Homo sapiens: one gene and its partners. The gene in region 3 interacts genetically with the main gene of each other region. Each region holds a gene or a part of one and is shown on either strand. Other genes may lie near its edges.

Region 1 (8,763 bases), on a different chromosome or scaffold from region 3:
CTCCAGACCTCAGGGGATCGGCCACCTCAGCCTCCAAGAGTGCTGGGATTACAGGCATGAGCCACTGTGCACGGTCTAACAGTTTTCCTTCTGACTTTGGGTATAATTTGATTTCATTTTTCTAGTTTCTTAATGTGGAAACCTAGATAATTGATTTGAGACTTTTCTTCCTTTCTGGCATAAGTATTGAAGGGTATAAATTTCCCTCTATGCTTTAGTTTCATCTTGCAAAGTTTGATAAGTTGAGTTTTCATTTTAAAATTTTTTCCTGCAATTTCTTCTTTGATCTCTGAGTTACTTAAATGTGACATTTAATTTCCAAGATTTCATGAGTTGCAGACATCTTTCTACAACTAATTTCCATTTCAATTCTTTTTTTGGTCATAGAACATGTTTTATAACATTTCATTCCTTTTGAATTTGTTGAGATTTGTTTTTTGGCCCACAATATGGTCTATCTTGGTGAACATTCTATGAGCACTTGAGAAGAATGTGCATTCTGCTGTTGATCTATGAATATCAATTAGGCCATGCTGTCTGATAGTGTTGTTCAAGCCTTCTGCATTTATATATCCTGATTTTTTGTACACTTTTTCTACCAAATGCTGGGAGTAATGGGGAAGTCTTCTACTAAAGGCACATGTGTTTATTTCTTCTTTGTGATGATGTATCAGTTGTCCCTCAAGTATTTTGAAGTTGCCTACATATCCGTGGTGTTTCTGTCTTCTGAATCAATGCACCTCTCTATGATTATTATGTAATGTCCCACTTTGTCCCTTGTAGTAATCTCCACTATAAAGTGTGCTTTGTGAGATACTAATTTCACACTTTGAGTTTATGTGATTCATATTTGCAGGAAATATCTTTTTCCATCTTTTACTTGTATCTTATTTATTTGTAGAGTGGGGCTCTTTTTTTCAAGATACAGATTACTGATAAATATACTGTGAAAATCAAGATCCTCTTGCAACTGTGCAACAACAATAAAAGTACCGAAAAATTAGATGCAGAAGTTAATATACAACTAAAATGTTACGCAGAAATCCACAGAATAATCTGCTCGGCTCTTCAAAAGAACCTCAATCAAACTCTTTGACAGCCTTCATAGAAAGATATCTTCACATTAAAGTGGTATATTTATATGAAAAATATAATTTTATCCCCCTATTTTCTACAGTAGGGTTTTGGGTAAAATTTCATTTCACGAAGGTGTTCTTTTGCTAAAAATCCTTTGAGAAACAACTATATAAAATGATCTCTCAGAGCTCTCTTAGCTTTGAAATGTGGAGATTCAAATATCCCTCTGTAGATTGAGGAGGAGATGTAAAAAAAAAAAACAAAACAAAACAAAAAAAAAAACAAAAAAAACCACGGGGGAGGAAATGTTGGTCTCCTGCACTTTTCTTTTCTTTTTCTTCCTAGACTAACCAGTTTGTGTTGGTCCTCCGCTGAGCTGTTAATCCAGGGAAGAGTTGCCCTTCTGAAGAATATGTGGATTTAATGGAGACCAAGGCAGGTTTGAATCGCTCAGAAACAACAGCCAGAATAACTTTTGAAGGGCTGTAAATGAAGATGATTCAAATCCTCTGATTTATGTTACTTTTCACTCAAGTTTCTAAAAGTGCCTTCCCATCAAGAGCTGTTTGGCTAGGGACAGAAACGTTTGTTCAGCCCTATTTTTCTCTTCCTTCCTTCCTTCCTTCCTTCCTTCCTGCCTCCCTTCCTGCCTCCCTCCCTCCCTCCTTTACTTCTTTCCACCCTCCCTCCCTCGCTCCATTTGTCCTTATTTTCTCCCTTCCTCCCTGGCTCCCTTCATGCCTCACTCCCTTCCTTCTTTCCTACCTTTTATAAAAAGAAGTGAACTGATATTTGTAAAGTAGAAAGATCAGAAGAGTTCACAATTATTTTCGAGTTTTCTTTTAACTTTTATTTTGGGTTCAGGGTGCATGTGCAGGTTTGTAATATAGGTAAACTCATGTCATGGGGTTTGTTGTACAGATTATTTCATCACCCAGGTAGTAAGGCCAGTGCCCATTAGTTATTTTGTTGATCCTCTCCCTCCTCCCAGCCTCTACCCTCTGATAAGCCCCAGCGTGTTGGCCCTCTCTGGGTGTCCATGTGTTCTCAGCAATTAGCTCCCATTTATAAGTGACTTCATGTGGTATTGGGTTTTCTGCTCCTGCATTAGTTTGCTAAGGATAATGGCCTCCAGCTCCATCCGTGTTCCTGGAAAGGACATGATCTCACTGTTTTTTATGGCTGCATAGTACTCCATGGTGTATATGTACCACATTTTAAAAAGTGCAGTCTGTTATTGATGGGCATTTAGGTTGATCCCATGTCTTTGCTATTGTGAGTAGTGCTACAATGATCATACATGTGCATGCGTCTTTATAATAGAAAGGTTTATGTACCTTTGGGTATAGTCCCAGCAATGGGATTGCAGGGCCAAATGGTATTTCTGTTCTTAAGTCCGTGAGGAATTGCCACACTCCTTTCCACAATGGTTGAACTAATTTATACTCCAACCAACAGGGTATAAGCGTTGCCTTTTCTGCACAAACTCACCAGCGTCTGTTATTTTTGTTCTTGCTTTTTATCCAGCCTTATAGACTCTGACTCTGTTTTTTGAGACAGGATGTCTTTCTGTCTGTGAACGTGAATTCCGCTGGTGTCTGAGACTTGCCAGGATTCCAGCTCTCTCAAATGCCTGTGTTCGAACTTTATGAATTTGCTACATTTTCACTGGTTTTCTTCTTACCCCCTGTTATGGCTGTCACTTCTTCCACACATGCTCTGCCACAGGTGATGCAGTTTGTTTGTCTCATCCCTCCTCAGAGGGACTAAGTCACCATTTTGGATCAGTTCCCATGGCTGCCTTGTTACCTCAGGTCTCTCATGATCTAAAAACAAAGCAAAACAAAAGATAACGTTATAGATTATTAGGCTGTTTTTCATTTTCAAGGCTAAAGTGACTTTCTCTTGAGGCTTTCTAAATCTTACCTGGTGGTAGAACTCTCCTTTGTTAATCTTTTGACTACTGGTACAAAAATACAGCATTCAAATATGTGAAGTAAAAGATAATCCAGGGGCTAGCTGACTATGGCTTGAGATCTAAATACAGCCCATGGCTTGTTTTGCATAGCCATTGAGATAAGGATTTTTTTCCATTTAAAAGTATTATTGCTAAAAAACACAACACTACGCCACAGAAACTACATGACCCACAAAGACTGAAATAATTACGATCAGATCTGTTAAAGCAAAATTTGGTGATGCCGTATTAATCAAATACCTGTTATTCTGCTTTGCATTATTGCATACATCTTTTCATCCATTAATTAATTTATTTACACACGGATTGAAAATATGGATGTTACTCTATCCCCTCAAGAAAGCGTCCAGCTTTATGATACCATGATTTCAGTCTGGGAAACTTGTCCCAGGGATCAGGTCAATACACAAACATACATTTGAGGTAGGAGACTGGCAGGACTTGTTTTCTGGTCATAACTGAGCCTAGAGCCTACAGTCAGAATCTATGGCTATTTCTGAAACATATACTGTCTGAATGACCTACAGGTATATTCAGGGAAATCAGTTACCAGTCCAGAGATTTAAATGTGAAGTAACACAACCTAAAAAGAAAAGAGTAAACAGGTGTGAATGTATTTATTCTACAGAAGAATTTATTCAATTACGTTTATTGGAAGCATGGCAGAAAACCCAGAACCAGAGAACAAAGTGATTAATAAAAGCATTTATAAAACTGGCCAAGGTGGGAGGATCACTTGAGCCCAGGAAATTGAGACCAGCATGGGCAACACAGTGAGACCACTATCTAAAAAATAAATAAATAATAAATAAACCAATTACCCAGGTGTGGTGTCTGCACCTGTAGTAGCAGGGACTGGGGAGGCTACATCGGGAGGATTGTTTGAGCCCAGGAGATGGAGGCTTCAGTGAGGTATGGTCATGCCACTGCCCTCCAGCCTGAGCAACAGAGTGACACTCTGTCTGGAAAAAAAAATAAATAAAAACGGCTTTATAAATAAAGATATGAAAATAATTTATTTCTTCCACAAAAGGTCTTCCTGAGACACATCCTCCAGTAAGGGACTGTCTGTTCCCAACGTTTCTGAATGCATGAGATTGGACAAAGAGAGACGAAAGCTCTCAAGTCCCTTTTTCTACTACAAACGCCATGGGGATGCGGGTCTGGGAACAGCGGAAAACCCTACCCTGCCCTGAAAAGTCCCTGGCTCAATGTGCATGTCCCTTTCTATGAAAGTTCCTTGCTGCCTATGCGCCTTGCTCTCTAACTTCTGTCCCTCCACAACTGTGAAAGGAGACGTCGTGACTTCCTTCTTTCGTGCTGACTATGACTTAGCCAGTAGGTCTGCAGATCAGTCCTCCCAGAAAGTGAAGTGTGAGTGAGTGTGAGGGGGAGCGTGGGGGGCTTCCTGTGGGTTGTGCCACTTGGTCCATGGCCTCTGAGGTCGTCATCTTTCTACTAAAACTCAGCGATACTGCCATGGCCTTGCTGTTGTGGGGTCCCGGGCATGGGACGAAGGAGGGCCATAGCGGGGAGGAGGGTCAGGTGAGCATGGAGTGAGTTTTTTTTTTTTTTTCACGGAGTCTTGCTCTGTCACCAGGCTGGAGTGCAGTGGCGCAATCTCGGCTCACTGTAACCTCCGCCTCCCGGGTTCAAGTGATTCTCCTGCCTCAGCCTCCCGAGTAGCTGGGAGTACAGGCGCGCACAACCACACCCAGCTAATTTTTGTATTTTTCAGTAGAGACGGGTTTTAACCATGTTGGCGAGGATGGTCTCGATCTCTTGGCCACATGATCCACCCGCCTCCGCCCCCCAAAGTGCTGGGATTACAGGCGTGAGCCACCGCGCCCGGTCATGGAGTGAGTTTTGAAGGCTGACTTTATTTGAGGTATTTGAGTCCTGGTGGGGGGGAACCCACACACAGAGAGGAGGGATTCCAAAGTCGTTAATGGGGACCTGGGAAGGAGCATAGGACAGGGCAAGGCGGGATAAGGAGGGGCACCACAGCCCTTAAGGCACGAGGGAACCTCACTGCGCATGCTCCTTTGGTGCCCACCTCAGTGCGCATGTTCACTGGGCGTCTTCCCATCGGCCCCTTCGCCAGTGTGGGGAACGCGGCGGAGCTGTGAGCCGGCGACTCGGGTCCCTGAGGTCTGGATTCTTTCTCCGCTACTGAGACACGGCGGGTAGGTCCACAGGCAGATCCAACTGGGAGTTGAAGTGTGAGTGAGAGTGAAGAGGAACCAGCAGGCTTCCGGAGGGTTGTGTGGTCAGTGACTCAGAGTGAGAAGGCCCTCGAAGTCGTCGTCCCTCTCATGCGGTGCCACGCCCATGGACCTTCTTGTCTCGTCACGGCCATAACTAGGGAGGAAGGAGGGCCGAGGAGTGGAGGGGCTCAGGCGAAGCTGGGGTGCTGTTGGGGGTATCCGAGTCCCAGAAGCACCTGGAACCCCGACAGAAGATTCTGGACTCCCCAGACGGGACCAGGAGAGGGACGGCATGAGCGGTATGGAAGGGTCCTGGAGACGGGGCATGCTGCGGGCTAGTGACCGCAGCCCCGAGGTCTGTAGAGTGCCTGGCATAGGGGTCCTGTGAGGAGTGCCCACTGCTGTGTAGCAAATTCTCAACTCCACTGTGGAGATTCCAATGGGCGGGGCCCTGAGTTCCTAAAAATGTGACTTTGGGGTGGGGGGGAAGTGGGCCTAGCAAATCATTATGTGACAAAATTGGTGGTCACTGCAGTTTCAGTTCTGTAGCTGTAATTTCCTACTTGTCTCCCTGATGGAGTGTCCAGTTGTGAAACCAACCTCATGGGAAATGCCCTGTGTTTTTTGCCAGGAGCCTTAAGACATCGCTCAGCTAGCTAGACCTACTTAAGTGGCTTTGCAAGCATTCGATTCAAAAGGTGCATACACTTATACTTGCCCGGGGACTTTCAGAGTATTTCTAAATTAAAAAAAAAAAAAATGTCCAAGTTAACATTTGACCATGAAAGCGGTCAAATCTAGTTGTCCTGTCAAGTGCATTTTCCCAATCGCAGTATTCTGCTTGCAGAGTGAAGTATGTGTTGATGAGGACGATCAACATATAGGCCTATGCCAAGAAGTTCACAACCTCCTGAGCTCATTGTGCCTCTGCTTGTGAATGTCTTAACATTCGATGTTTTCTCTTAGCAGAAAGTTATTTTTCTGATAGTGTTGATGGACTAGTATGGATACACTGATAATGGTCTCCCATGCTGATAAAAAATGATCATGGCATCCCATGAAGGAAAGATTAGTCCAGAGGGTTATATTTGGGTTTTGTGTGGGTGGATGATCGTGTGTGCCCAGATTTTGTCCATAACTTCCTCCTCATGCTTATTCAGAACAGATTACACACATTCATCCCAACATTGATTAAAACGGCTTCCAAAGTCCCTGAGGATATCTGTCTTTGAGTAACCTCTCTGAGGGAAGAATAGTGTTATGAAGATTAGGTATACGGGGTAGTGTTGGAGAAATGTCTCTAGACATACTTATAATAAGACATACCTGTGTATTCTGTATATTTATATTATTGACATGTATTAATAACAAAACTTTTTATCTAGACACACACAAACACAGAACCACACAGCCAGTCCCAGGAGCCCAGTAATGGAGAGCCCCAAAAAGAAGAACCAGCAGCTGAAAGTCGGGATCCTACACCTGGGCAGCAGACAGAAGAAGATCAGGATACAGCTGAGATCCCAGGTGCTGGGAAGGGAAAGTATGTCTATGGGGCGGGAGAAGGTCTATGTGTGCATTGTGGCCTATGCCATGAGCAGTAACAGGAGCAAAGAGAACATTAGGAAAAGATACCAAACATTTGCTCAAAGTTGGCTGGAAAAGGGAGAGTATAGTTTGCAGCTTCATGCTGTCCCTGGATATAATGAATCTTCTCTTGTTCTTCGAGATGGATTTTGTATGCTTGAAAATACAGTCCTTACTAAATCACTTGAAACCATTTAATTTGGTGTATAGAAATGTACATTTTTTTATTATGTGGCAGAGGCTCATCTGTCACGCAGTGTGGATTGTTGTGGCATGATCTTGGCTCACTGCCACCTCCAGCTCTTGGGTTCAAGCGACCTCGGCCTCCCAAAGTGCTGAGATTACAGGCATGAACCACTACGCCTGGCTCAGGCTTTATTTCGTAACGCGAAGGAAGAGAATATTATCATTTCCTTATTTATATTTCATGTTGGAATGCTTAAATCGATAACCTTTGTATTTTGAAGTGCGCGACATGGAAGGTGATCTGCAAGAGCTGCATCAGTCAAACACCGGGGATAAATCTGGATTTGGGTTCCGGCGTCAAGGTGAAGATAATACCTAAAGAGGAACACTGTAAAATGCCAGAAGCAGGTATGTTATCCAGCAAGATGCAAAGTTATGTGCTTTCTCATTTACACAGTATTATACTTTTGATAATAGAGGGATAACATTAGTGCTACTTTAAAAACACAGTGCAAATGCAAATGTTCTTTGAAACGTCGTTCAGACCCAAATGCCAGATTGCAAGACTTAAACACTATCAGATACAGAAACAAATTGGGTCAAAGCCATATTGAATCATCAAACGTGACAGCATTTTCTTAGTTTGGTGTATAACCAACAGCTAACAATTTTCAGATTCTTTTCTAATTTCTGCTTTTAACAAACACATAATGCATTTGTAATACCAGTTTGTGTGAAGTATGCTGAGCCCTGAAGCAGATTCTAGTACCAGCTCTACCATAATTTGTGAGAGTCTGGATGAATCGTATAAATTCCACAGGCATCCTTGCTCTTAGTGAAAAGAGTGGATGCACATCAGATAGATTAAAATCCATTTCGTTGCTAATTTCCACATGCTCTGGTTCTGTTGGATAGAAGACCAAGATATTCTGATCTTCATGATTTGTTTATCATAACAATCAGCTTCAGTCCAATTATAGTGTCTGAGTTGAGATTTCATGGTTCCTAGGAAAATGAGCGGGCACTCTGCTTGGTGTTTGTTTTCCTGTGTGGAGCCCTGTATGAGTGTTCTTGTATTTTGCCAAATTCTGAGTTCTCTGTCTCTTAAAGAATAATTGCATTTTAAAGCCTTCCCGCAGTGAAGCCTTGAATGACTGAATGATAAAATGGCAGGAGATCATCAGGTTTCTGTGGCCAGTGAAGTAGAGAGAATGCATGTAGGTCAGTGATGCCCAAGGTGGGTGTAAGATGCTTCTGCTAAGCATGCTCCCTGCCCTCCCGTCAGTCTTCATGAACTACTTCGTGTAATTAGATTGAAGACTCATATAGTAGAGTCACCTCTAACCATACCATAGGTTACATATTACAGGTTTCTGCCTTGAGGCATTAGATGATAGGGTTTGAAGTTCAACAACAGCACTGTGCTAGTTCCTGAGTAGTTGACACAAGTATGTTTTACACATATTTTCCAAATTGGTGACTGTTAATTACAATACCTCTTGAAGTTAAAGGAAGCACCCCATGTTTAAGGGAGAAATTACCTAAGTGTTTTTACTGTACCCTGCTGAACCATTCCATTATACTATTTACATTAAAAGATAGTTCTCAGACGATTTCCAGGAGCCCACTGAACAAGCCTCAGTTGTATTCTTAGGGAGATCATAGCTTTAAATGCACGTCTTATTAAAATAAATAGCACGTTACATGTTAAAGGAAAAGAATACTATG
Region 2 (8,255 bases), on a different chromosome or scaffold from region 3:
CAAACTCATTCTCGGTCCAGTTTTATTTCCTTGCTGGCAAGGAGTTGTGATCCTTTGGAGGAGAAGATGCATTCTGGGTTTTGCAATTTTCAGCCTTTTTGTGCTGGATTTTCCTCATCTTTGTGGATTTATCTCCCTTTGGTCTTTGATGTTGGTGACCTTCAGATGGGGTTTCTGTGTGGATGTCCTTTTTGTTGATGTTGATACTACTCCTTTCTGTTTGTTAGTTTTCCTTCTAACAGTCAGGCCCCTCTGCTGCAGGTCTGCTGGAGTTTGTTGGAGTTCCACTCCAGACCCTGTTTGCCTGGGTATCACCAGCAGAGGCTGCAGAACAGCAAAGATTGCTGCCTTTTCCTTCCTCTGGGAAGCTTCGTCCCAGAGGGGCACCTGCCAGATGCCAGCCGGAGCTCTTGTATATGAGGTATGTGTCAGCCCCTGCTTGAAGGTGTCTCCCAGTCAGGAGGCATGGGGGTCAGGGACCCACTTGAGGAGGCAGTCTATCCCTTAGCAGAGCTTGAGCGCTGTGCTGGGAGATCCGCTGCTCTCTTGAGAGCCAGCAGGCAGGAACATTTAAGTCTGCTGAAGCTGTGCCCACAGCCGCCCCTTCCCCCAGGTGCTCTGTCCCAGAAAGATGGGAGTTTTATCTATAAGCCCCTGCCTGGGGCTGCTGCCTTTCTTTCAGAGATGCCCTTCCCAGAGAGGTGGAATCTAGAGAGGCAGTCTGGCTACAGCGGGTTTGCCAAGCGGCCGTGGGCTCTGCCCAGTTTGAACTTCCCGGAGGCTTTGTTCATAATGTGAGGGGAAAACTGCCTACTCAAGCCTCAGTAATGACAAACGCCCCTCCCCCCACCAAGCTTGAGCATCCCAGGTCAACTTCAGACTGCTGTGCTGGCAGTGAGAATTTCAAGTCAGTGGATCTTAGTTTGCTGGGCTCCGTGGTGGTGGGACCTGCTCAGCTAGACCACATGGCTCCCTGGCTTTAGCCCCCTTTCCAGTGGAGTGAACGGTTCTGTCTTGCTGGCATTCCAGGCACCACTGGGGTATGAAAAACAACTCCTGCAGCAAGCTCCATATCTGCCCAAACGGTTGCCCAGTTTTGTGTTTGAAACCTAGGGCCCTGGTGGCATAGGCACAGGAGGGAATCTCCTGGTCTGTGGGTTGAGAAGACCATGGGAAAAGCATAGTATCTGGGCCTGGATGCACCGTTCATCACAGCACAGTTCCTCATAACTTCCCTTGGCTAGGGGAAGGAGTTCCCCGACCCCTACTGCTTCCCCGGTAAGGCAGTGCCCCACTCTACTTCGGCTTGCCTTCCATGGGCTGCACCCACTGTCTAATGAGTCCCAGTGAGATGAGCCGGGTACCTCAGCTGGAAATGCAGAAATCACCCACCTTCTGCCTTGATCTCACTGGGAGCTGCAGACCAGAGGTATTACTATTTGGCCATCTTGCTATTGCTGCTGTTTTTTTTTTTTTTTTTTTTTTTTTTTTTTAAGACAGAGTCTCACTCTGTCACCCAGGCGGGAGTGCAGTGGTACAACTTCAGCTCACTGCACCCTCTGACTCCCAGGCTCAAGCGATCATCCCATCTCAGCCTCTTGAGTAGCTGGAACTATAGGCACAAGCCACCGTGGCCCGATTAATTTTGTTTTTTTGATATAAGTTTTGTAGAGATGAGGTCTCACTATGTTGCCCAGGATGGGATTCTCTGGCTCTTAATAAATAATTGCTTTTTAAATCTTTCACAAAGGAAACCTTGAGTGAGTGAATAATCAAAAGGTGATAGATTGTTTAGTTTCTATTTTCTGTGGCATGAAGGTCAGTGATGCTCAGGATGGGTGTGAGTAAGATGCTTGTGCTAAGCATGCTCCCTGCCCCACAGTCAGTCTGCATGAGCCACTGTTTCTAATAAGACTGTGGATAGAGTGATATAATCACCTCTAACCATATCAAATGTTACACGTAAGTTTCAGATTTTGAGACATGAGTTGATAAGATTTGAAGTTCAAAGACCATGACTTTAGTACTTCCTGAGTAATCAACTGAAATATGTTTTACATATGTGTTTTCCAAATTGCTGACCATTCATTATAAGTGCTTCTGAATTTAAAGGAGGTACTTGATGTATAGGTAAGAAATTACCTTTAAATTCTGGAGGTCTACCCTCAAAGTGTATACAGAGGTTTAATTGGATGTAAGACACAGGATCACCTTTAGGGTTCTGTTTTTTTGTCTATTTAATAAAACCCAAACTGTAGTATGCTTTACATGCCTTTAGAATCATATAAATAAACTGCTGTTAAGTAATGTTCCCAGTTGTTATGTTTCTGTTACAGGTGAAAAGCAATCACGGAGTTAAAAGAAGACAAGCTGAAATGATGCAGGCTGCTCCTATGTTGGAAATTTGTTCATTAAAATTCTCCCAATAAAGCTTTACAGCCTTCTGCAAAGTAGTCTTGCGCATCTTTTGTGAATTTTATTTCTAGCTTTCTGATGCTGTGAAATATGTATCATTCTTTGAAATTTTATATTCTAACTGTTTCAGCTGGTATGCAGAGACATCATTCCTTTTTTTTTTTTCTTTTTTTCTCTTTCCAGACAGAGTCTCACTCTGTTGCTTAGGCTAGAGTGCAGTGGTGTGATCTCTGCTCACTGCAACCCCCGCCTCCTGGATGCAAGCAATTTCTGCCTCAGCCTCCCGAGTAGCTGGGATTACAGGAGCCCACCACCTACCCAGCCAGATTTTGTATTTTTAGTAGAGACGGGGTTTCGCCATCTTGGCCGGGGTGCTCTTGAACTCCTGACCTCGTGATCCACCCACCTCGGCCTCCCAAAGTGTTGGGATTACAGGCGTGAGCCACCGCGCCCGGGCGAGACATAATTCTTATATATTGATTTTCTATCCAGCAGCCTTGTGAAATATGCTTATGAATTCTAAAAGTTTACTTCTAGATGGTTTTCAGTCTTCAACATACAGAATCATACCATCCTTGAATAAGAACAATTTTGTTTCTGCCATTTTTTTTTTCTTTTTCCTTTTGTATTTTTTGTAGAGACGGGGTTTTGCCATGTTTCCCGGGCTGTTCTTGAACTTTTGAGTGCAAGTGATGCACCCGCCTCACCTCCCACAGTGCTGAGATTACTGACGTGGGCCACCGTGCCGGGCCTGTTGTTGCCATTGTAAAGAGTTTTATTTCCTTTTCTGATTTTATGGCATTGTGCAGACCCACCTGTTAAAATGGTGACAGTCAATATCCTTGTCTTATCCCTGATGAGAAACCGAAAAATTTCAACATTTCACCATCCTATTTACTGTCCTTTTTTTGTAGATGGACTTTATCAGAGTAAGTCATTCCATTCTGTTCCAAATTTGCTGAGAGTATTCATTTGAATATATGTTGAGTTTCATCAGTGCATCTATTTTGTTTATAACAGCATTTTTTTCCCATTCATCTGTTAATGTAGTGAATTAGATTGATAACTTTGTACATTTTTATCTTCTATTTTTAAAAATCGAGACAGGGTCTCATTCTATCACCCAGGCTGGAGTGCAGTGGTGTTATCAGAGCTCACTGCATCCTTGACCTTCTTGGCTCAAGTGATCCTCCCACCTCAGGCTTCTAAGTAGCTGTGACTATAGGTACATGTAACCATTCCCAGCTAATTTTTCTTCTTCTTTTTTTTTTTTTTTGTAGTGATGAGATTTTCTCATGTTGCTTAGGCTGGTCTCGAACACCTGAGCTCAGGCAATCTGCCCAGCTCAGCCTCCAAAAATACTAGTACTACAGGCATGAGTCTTGGCCTGGCCAGTTTTTCTTATACAAGGGTCTTCTCTATGTAAAGACTAAACTTATCTGTATCTTTGTGAGGGTGTGCTAAGGGCATGATGAAATTTATCATTCTATTGATTTAAAGAAAACTATCCTTGACTTTCCAGTGTGTAAGTCCATGAAAGCATAATTATGTTGAAAGCATATATTGTTATGGGTGTTGAGAACCCTGCACTTTCTGCTGCTGTGGGAGCATGTCCTTGGAGGTACCTTTCGTCTGTTTTCTCAACTCCAAACATCTTAGGACCATGGGTTGTGACTGGTAAGGAATGTGTCTTGCGAGTTTCAAGATGGAGTTGATTTTCACATGGTGTCACTCTGGCTCTCCTGTTTCTCTAATACTGGCACTTCTCTTTCTGTGATTCTGATGCTACAAATGATAGATATCGTTTTAGTATTTTCTTATGGGTCCTAGAGATTGTATTCATTTTTCTTTCAGTCTCTTTCTCTGACTTGTTCACATTTAACAATTTCTTTTTGGGGTAGGTTGCTATTTCTGTTTTCGCAGGTGGTTTACCTGTCTTCTCAGGCAGTCACCGTGGTCCTTGTCCCCATGGTGGGGCCGGGGCAAGAGAGGGCCCTGGAGGGGAGGGGGGTTTAGTTGAAGATGGAGTGAGTTTTGAGGGGAGCACTACTTGAGTCCCAGAGGCATAGGAAACAGCAGAGGGAGGTCAGATTCCATTATCCTCAGTGGGGATGGGAATCGAGGGTTGGGGGCGTGGGGCTGGGAACGGCAGCCTTCCCCAACCCGCAGCTGTACATGCTCCTTGGCTCCCGCCTCAGTGCGCATGTCCACTGGGCGTCTTCTGCTCAGCCGCTTTACCCACGTGGAGAACGCCAGGGAGCTGTGAGGGTGTGTGGTCTCGTTCCTGTCGTCTGGAATATTTTTCCTCTACTGAGATTCATCTGGTAGGTCTGCAGGCCAGTCCTCCCGGGGTCTGAAGTGTGAGTGAGGGTGAAGAGCAGGCAGTGTGCTTCGGGTGAGTCCGTTGGGTCCTGCTTCGTGGTCTGTGGCCTCTGAGGGAGAAGGGCCTCGAGGCTTCTGAAAGGGAAGGGGCTCCTGGCCTCTGAAAGAGAAGGGCCTTGAGGTCGTCCTCCTTCTCTCAAAGGCTGTGAGGCCACCATCTGCTTTGTGGTCGTGAAGGGGCCAGGACAAGGAGGAAGGTGGGCCATGGAGGGGAGGCGGTCAGGGGCTCAGGTGAAGAAGGGGCGATTGCTGGGTGTGCTGTCAGAGGGATGGAAGTCCGGAGGTGCCAGGAATACCCGATACAGGGGAGATCCCTGAATGAGGTCCCGGACAGGTGCGAGGAGGGCGATAAAGAAGGGACCTGGCACCTGGGAAGACTGCGGGCTGGTGAGTGCCCCTGAGCTTTGTGGAGTGGGGAGCCCCGAGTGAGAAGCATCGCAAGATCTCACCTCCGCCATGGAAGGTCTGGCAACAGTGGGAAGGACTGGGAGAGGCTGTGCGGTCCAATCAAACTTGATTTGAGAGAAGTGAATGGCTCTAGTAAGTGGGAGTGTGCCCAAAGTAGCAATCACGAGAATTATGATTCACTAATGTTTTCATGTGGAGTCCACTTGTGAAACTAAACCTCATCAGAAATGACCTCTGCCAGTGGGGCGCCATGGCCTGCGCCTGTAGTCCCAGTTACTCGGGACGCTGAGGTGGGAGGATCCCTTGAGCAGGAGGTCGATGCTGCAGTGAGCTGTGATCACGCCGCTGCACTCTGCCAGAGCAACACAGGGAGACTGCGGGACCAAAAGAAATTTAGAAAAAAAATGTCCTCTGCGTTTTGTCACACGCCTTAAGATGATTGCTCTGCCAGCTTGGCCAGCATAAGTGGCTTTGTAGGCACTCAGAAAAGGTACACACATATGCTTAACTCTGGGACTTATTTTGAAAGTATTTTCAAAATTAAAACGACAAGTTAACATTTATCCATGGAGGTGATCGAATATAGCAGCCCTGTGGAGCGCACGTTCCCAATCACGGTTGTCTGTTTTCAGTGTGAAATATGAGTTGGCGAGGAAGATCGACCTATCGGCCTAGACCAAGACGCTACGTAGAGCCCCCTGAAATGATTGGGCCTATGCTGGTGAGTGCTTAAACGTTAATTCGTTGTTTTCTATTAGCAGAAATTAATTTTTGTGACAGTATTGTTGCATTAGTATGGAAATGCTGATAAAGGTCTTTCCTGCTCATAAAAAATGATGATGGCGTCTCATGAAGGAAACATTGATTCTGGAGAATTTTTTTTCCTCTAGTGTTCTTCAGCTTTTGCCCATGACTTCTTTCTCAGGCTTTGTTTGTTAATGACAGATTGTACACATGTATTCCAACACTGAGTATAATAGCCTCCAAAGTCCTCGTGCGTCACTTTTCTCATAGTAACCTTCCTGTGGGTCGAGTAACCTTATTGGGCATAGAGCATAGAGTTGGAGAAATGTCTTTAGGCTTAGTTAGGACCAGAAATAGCTATGTATTCTGTGTATATATGTAAAATTTTGTATCAATAACGAAACTTATTTTTTATTTGCACACCCACACGTATTCCCCAGCCCGAGCAGTTCAGTGATGAAGTGGAACCAGCAACACCTGAAGAAGGGGAACCAGCAACTCAACGTCAGGATCCTGCAGCTGCTCAGGAGGGAGAGGATGAGGGAGCATCTGCAGGTCAAGGTGAGGGAAAGGGAAGAAGAACGTCTGCTGGTGTGTGCGTGTGTGTGTGTTCGTGTGTGTGTGTGTGCACGTGTGTGTGTGTGTGTGTTAGGCATTGTCACATAGGAGGAAGAGGAGGAAAGAAAACAATGGAAAGAATGCCTGAAATTGACTGGAAAAGCGAGGAGGCTATGTAGTTTGCAGCTTAGCTTAGGCAAATCCCTCACTATGATAAAAGTTCTCATCTTTATGAATGAGAAAATGGAGGCGCTGGGATTGTGTTTTATCCAAGAGCCCTTGACTGGTGAATACAAAATTTGTATTTTGTTCCAAGGTTTGTGTCTTCCTACCATCTATGTTGCTGTAAAAACGGAAATGATTTTGCTGAAAATGCTTAAAACTCAAAGGCTTTACTGTAAGGTAGCTTAGTACTGACCCAAGAATAGACCCAGTTCAGAGGAGCAGGAGCAGCTCCAAAAACCGAGTCACTGAATGTCAGCCACTGTTTCCTTTGATTGATGTTTTTATATGGTACATTTGATAAAAGCTGGATAAATGAGGATACTGCCATACAGGTAGCTGGTTTAGTTATTTTCTAAGTGGCTTTTAGGAGGTGATTAAATCCTTTTATGGTTAGAAAAAGCAAAAAAGGAATTATCCTGAGATTAACATTGAGATAGAAATAATTTCTCCTAGATAAAATATTTTCAAACAAAACATTTATGTAACTGAGGTCATGGATTATTCCAGGGATGCACTGTTAAAAATTTCTAGAATCTGACTGACAACAATGCCCATTAATTGCTGTCCTCCCACTCCCTTATTCTCAGTGTGGGACAGTATATTTTCTGTGATTCACAAACAATGTTATATTTGGTGCTTTGTTCTTCACGGGGTTCATTTATGGAATATTACATTTAGGACCTTTGGACCTAAATATAACTTTATTTGAACAAAATGAAGTTTCTATTTACCTCAATAAGTAATGGGTGTCATGACTGTAAGATTTTCCATAGTCCTCAAATCCATTCAGCTAATCGATCCTTCAGAAATTGACATTGTAATTGTAACCGAAATCCTATCCATGTGGTAGACTTGAGATTTCTTAGCTGATGCACACTGCTCTCGGTACTCTATGGCTGAATATAAGCATTATACATGTCCTGTGGTTTATCCTTAGATTGTCATTTAGGAGAAAGGTCTCAAGCTGGGCTGAATGCTGTGCACGCATAGTCCCAGCTACTTGGGAGTCTGAGGTGAGAGGATTGCTTGAGCCCTGGAGTTGAAGCCCAGCCTGGGAAACATAGCAAGACCTTATCACTAATAAATAAATAAACAAACAAACAAACAAACAGATAACTAAAGGTTTCATGGTATAGGAAAACACAGATGCAAAGTTTGTGCCTAGTTGCTGGTAATGTTGCAAACATAACTCCTTAGTGAACTGTACCACTTAAAAATAGTTAAGATGGTAAATTTTAGAATATGTGTATTTTTTACCATAATTAAAAAAAACCTCCTGTCTTCCTAAAGTTCAGTGTAATTGTCATATATTCTTTTAAATTTTTACTGTATCTATTTTCAAGGCATAACATTATGGAAAATTTGCAAGAATAGTACAATGAACTCCTATACTTTTCACCTAGATTCACCAATTGTTAATAGCTTTCGCTTCATAGGTTTCATATCACTTCCCTCTCTTACCCTGCTTCCCACACACTCACACACACACACATACAGATATATGTTTACTGTTATTAATGCTG
Region 3 (4,785 bases):
CTGGCAGGGCGGCGACAGTGGGGGAGCTCAGCCTCAACTTTGCTCAAAAATCTGAGTGCCACCAGGAGTGGGAAGAGGCCAGGCAGCAAGAGCAGACACTTGTGAGCAGTGGGGGCAGGAAGGGCTTCCCCGGCCGGGAGCGCAGGGACGTCTAAGTCTGCAGCCACCGCTAGTCTGGTGGCAGCTGCTCCCAGGAGGGTGGGGCTCCCGCCCTGCCATCTCAAAAGGGGGCGGGGCTCCCACTAGCTCCACGGAGCGCACAGCCCCTGTGGCTCCCACACTGCAGCTGGCATCTTTGCAGTGGCCACTCCAGATGGGCCGCTGCTGCCATTAAAAGGACTGGTAATCTAAGGGAGTTTATGGTGACCTGGTACTAGGCAAAGGATTAAAACTATAAAGGAAGGCACAAATGATGCTATTAGGTCACACTGAGGTGCCAGGCATTGATCTACATGATGTATATGTTTATGTTCTATATTTCTATATTTCTAAGCTACGTATATATTTAATTCATCTAATTATTCCAGCAACTCTATAAAAGAGATGCCATTAGTGTCCCATTTTTCAGAAAAGGAAACTGAGGCTAGAGAAGTTGAGTTACTTGCCCCAATGACACAGCTAAGGCCAGGTGAAAAGAGAATTCCAACCTGGGCTGACCGGTTCCAGATCCCTTGTCCCTCACCACTACATGCAACAGGAGGTGGAGGAGAAAGAAGAGGCAGAATTTGGTGGCACCTGTCGTGTAAGCGGAGGTGGGCGGGGCGGGGGCACAAACCAAGTTCATAAGCCTACAGGATGGAGGGTGCTAAGCTTCAAAGGACAAAGAGGGCTGGTCGCCATGGCTCACACCTGTAATCCCAGCACTTTAGGAGGCTGAGGCAAGAGGACTGTTTGAGGCCAAGAATTTGTGACCAGCCTGCACAGCATAGCAAGACACTATCTCTACAAAAAATTTTAAAAATTAGCTGGGCGTGGTGGCCTGTGCTTGTAGTCCCAGCCACTCAGGAGGCTGAGGTGGGAGGATCGCTTGAGGCCAGGAGTTTCAGGCTGCAGTGAGCTGTGATCTCACCACTCCACTCCAGCCTGGGAGACAGGGTGAGACCCTGTCACTAAAACATTAAATAAACAAACAAATAAATAAAAATAAAATGAAGGGGACTGTGGGGACAAGAGTAACTTTATTGAAAATACTAATCCTCCATGTTACTTCTGACTGGCCCTGAGTCTGGGAAGGCCGCCAAAGTGTCTAGGTGATGTATTACTCTTTATGGTAGAACACCTATTCATTATAAACTTCCCCCAATACAACCCCTGTTGTTGCAGAAATCTTAGGCTGTGACAACCATAGCTGCCTACACATTCCTTGTATCTTGGGGTAAAAGCACACGTGCTCTGGAAGGAATGTGTAGGTGGCTATGGGTGCACAATTTCAGGGGGTTCGTGAACTCCAGTTAAGACTTGCCCTAATTATACCATGTAAATAATTCAATAATGGGCAATTCTGTAGTAGAAATTTTATTCCCACCCATAAAATATATCACTAAATAGCTGAAAAATTTACATATTATTTTAAAACATAGACTTAAAAAATCATATTAGCTTCTCCTTAGCAAAATGCTTTTGTTTTATGTATTTACAAGAATATACTGTACTTCAGGTACACAATTCACTCAAGCCAGCCTGAGAAGGCCTTGGATGCAGATCAATGCTCCAATAAAGTTCATTATCAGCTCCTCCTGCCTTGTGACAGGATGATTTGATTTTACAAAAGTCCCTTTGAAAACAAGAGTAAACGCAGACAGCTTCTAGAGAAAAGTCTGGTGAAGCAGCAGTTGATAATAGATTTTCTTTTAGTGATGAAATTAATCTTGTTTTGGTAATCTACAGCCTGTTAGGGATAGGTGGAGGGATGAAGTCCTTAAAACTAAATTGTTCCTCTACGAATCTTCGACCTGAGCCTGCGGAGAGAGTAGCCCCAAATCCATCTCTCTGCTGAAAGGTCGCCTGTTTTGGTAGGTGTGAGGACATTCCGAAACACGGCCATCCACATTCTGATACATCTGAATGTGGGAAAGAGACAGAACACTGATTACCATCTGATGTAGATGCACATGTTATGCGCCCATATTACAAATTATTTAAATAAAAACAGTTGTTCTATATAGACAATTACTTTTTTGTTTGTTTGTTGTTTGTTTGTTTATTTTTTGAGACAGAGTCTCGCTCTGTTGCCCAGACTGGAGTGCAGTGGTACAACCATAGTTCACCGTGGCCTTGATGTTCTGGGTTTGAGCAATCCTCCCACCTTAACCTCCTGAGTAGCTGGGACCACAAGCAGGCTCCACCACACCCTGCTAATTTTTTTATTTTTTGTAAAGACAAAGTCTCACTATGTTGTCCAGGGTGGTCTCAAACTCCTGGGCTCAAGTGATCCCACACCACCCCGGCCTCCCAAAGTGCTGCGATTACAGGTGTGAGCCACTACGCCCGGCCTAGACATCACTTTTAAAATGTTTAAACTGATATATAATAGATGTACATATTTTCAGGAAACGTGTAGACAAGTACTTTTATTATGCATAGGTCTCAGAGGATATTCTATATAACTAAAAAAGCAATTTTGGTCCTTTTATTAATGGAGAAATCAAATCATAGTCAAATATTTTATTTCATTATTGAGTCTACTCTCAGATATAAAATGTCACCCTAGAAATCCTAAAACCATGCAGAAAAATCATAAAAGAGAAAGGCCACAAAAGGAAATCTGTTCATTATGGAGTTAATACAAGGGACTGATTCTTGAGTTTTCCCTTGGAGTTTCACGACTTTTAAATATTTTTTTCTGAAATGAAGAGATTTACTTTCCTTTCCCAAATATGAAGTTAACATGCATTCATATAGATAATTTGAGAAATACAGAAAGAGACGTAGAAGGCCGGGCGCAGTGGCTCATGCCTGTAATCCCAGCACTTTGGGATGCCGAGGCGGGCGGATCACCTGGGGTTGGGAGTTCAGGACCAGCCTAGCCAACGTGGAGAAACCCTGTCTCTACTAAAAATACAAAACTAGCCGGGCATGGCGGCGCGCGCCTGCAGTCCCAGCTACTTGGGAGGCTAAGGCAGGAGAATTGCTTGAACCTGGGAGGTGGAGGCTGCAGTGAGCCTAGATTGTGCCACTGCACTCCAGCCTGGGTGACAGAGCAAGACTCCATCTCAAAAAAAAGAAAAAAGGCTACAAGTCATGACAAGTACCCGCCATTATAGACAGCTTGCTATGCACACACAATTTTGTGTCTGTGGGCTCAGGCTATATATTCTATTTTGGAACCTTATTTTGAATTATCAATATATTGTTATTATACTGCTCATATGTTGCCTGTGTCACATATTTACATTATTCACTAAGGATGGCCACATATTTTTTTTTCACGGCAGCCTAGAGTTCCATAGTACTGATGCATCATAATTAACCTTTTGACCAACTGGTTATACGAAACAAACTGAAAAGTGCACACTCAATCTAGTCTGACGTTGGGATAAGCAGAAGTGGAATTGCTGGATCAAAAAGGATGCACACTTGAACTGTGATACACAAGGCCAGGCTGCCCTGCAGAAAGGTTGTATTTATTTCTACTCCTATCAACGGTGCCTGGAAACTATATTTTCCAGAGCCTTCTGAACAATGGGTATGTCAGCCTCCCACATCTCTTCTCTTTTGCTGAGCAAGAAGTTCTATCTCCTTAACTATATATGTTTCACTATCTGCAAAGTTGGGCCTTTTTCCTATACTTTATGTCCATTTGTTTTCATTTTGAATAGCCTGCCTATTTCCTTTGCCTTTTATGTATATAAAAGGCTATACAGGCTGGGTGTACTGGCTCAACTCTGTAATCCTAGCACTTTGGGAGGCCGGGGCGGGAGGATTGCTTGAGGCCAAGAGTTCAAGACCAAACTAACCAACATAGCAAGATCCTGTCTCTAAAAGAAATAAGTTTTTAAAAGGTGATACATTTTTATTATTATTTGTTTATAAGAACTTTATGATTTAGGAATCATGCATTCTATTTAAATTTTATAGATTTGTTCCGTTCCCACAGCCCTTGTTACTGTCTACTTCTTTTTCTTTGTTTTTGACAGTTTTAATGTGAACTGTCCAGACTGCCTCCTACACTTCACTTTTCTTTCTAGAAAATTGTGTGTGTGTGTGTGTGTGTGTGTGTGTGTGTGTATCCTTTGACCCAAAATATATCCATTGTGAACCAGGTGTTGCACAATGACAGCTTTGCTTGTACCCTGAAGGATGAACAGTAACTACTCATGCGTGCCTTTTGTGAAGTAGACATAGCAGTTAGTTAGCATTTGTTGAACCTGTTGAATCCAAATGTACATCTCTACCACTGAATTTCTAACCACCTCATGAAGTTTGTGTAGCACAAATACCAATAACACTTCCAATCTTCCACCTGAATTAACTAACATGTGCTCTTCATCCAGTCTCACTGTCTAGAAGTTTCTAGAACCATCTCTGACAATCTCTCTCCACTCCCATAGCTAGTTACTGGGTATAGTTGTAATACATCACTCTTTTCCATTTCTTTAAGTGACCTTTCTTTCCTTTTTTTTTTTTTTTTTTGTTGTTGCTGTTGCTGTTGTGACAGAGTCTCACTCTGTTGCCCAGGCTGGAGTGTTGTGGCATGATCTCAGCTCACAGCAACCTCTGCCTCTCAGGTTCAAGCAATTCTTGTGCCTCAAGTAGCTGGGACTACAGGTGTGTACCACCACACCT

The links. Genes that interact genetically often act in the same process or in processes that back each other up.
Region 1: changes in FLT3 (region 3) and XAGE1A together harm fitness less than expected from each alone (positive genetic interaction), as found in Homo sapiens cells (one study listed by BioGRID).
Region 2: changes in FLT3 (region 3) and GAGE10 together harm fitness less than expected from each alone (positive genetic interaction), as found in Homo sapiens cells (one study listed by BioGRID).

The regions. Positions count from the first base shown.
Region 1 is NC_000023.11:52,490,669-52,499,431, forward strand, and holds the start of XAGE1A (X antigen family member 1), read left to right. Parts: upstream 1-5,139; 5' UTR 5,140-5,241; exon of another isoform or gene 5,242-5,370; coding exon of another isoform or gene 5,371-5,561; intron 5,562-6,647; coding exon of another isoform or gene 6,648-6,693; coding exon 6,694-6,789; coding exon of another isoform or gene 6,790-6,805; intron 6,806-7,316; coding exon 7,317-7,443; intron 7,444-8,763.
Region 2 is NC_000023.11:49,299,015-49,307,269, forward strand, and holds the start of GAGE10 (G antigen 10), read left to right. Parts: upstream 1-4,631; 5' UTR 4,632-4,739; intron 4,740-5,837; 5' UTR 5,838-5,845; coding exon 5,846-5,926; intron 5,927-6,350; coding exon of another isoform or gene 6,351-6,389; coding exon 6,390-6,510; intron 6,511-8,255.
Region 3 is NC_000013.11:28,002,115-28,006,899, forward strand, and holds the end of FLT3 (receptor-type tyrosine-protein kinase FLT3 precursor), read right to left. Parts: intron 2,061-4,785; coding exon 1,938-2,060; 3' UTR 1,160-1,937; downstream 1-1,159. UniProt on the Homo sapiens protein: Tyrosine-protein kinase that acts as a cell-surface receptor for the cytokine FLT3LG and regulates differentiation, proliferation and survival of hematopoietic progenitor cells and of dendritic cells.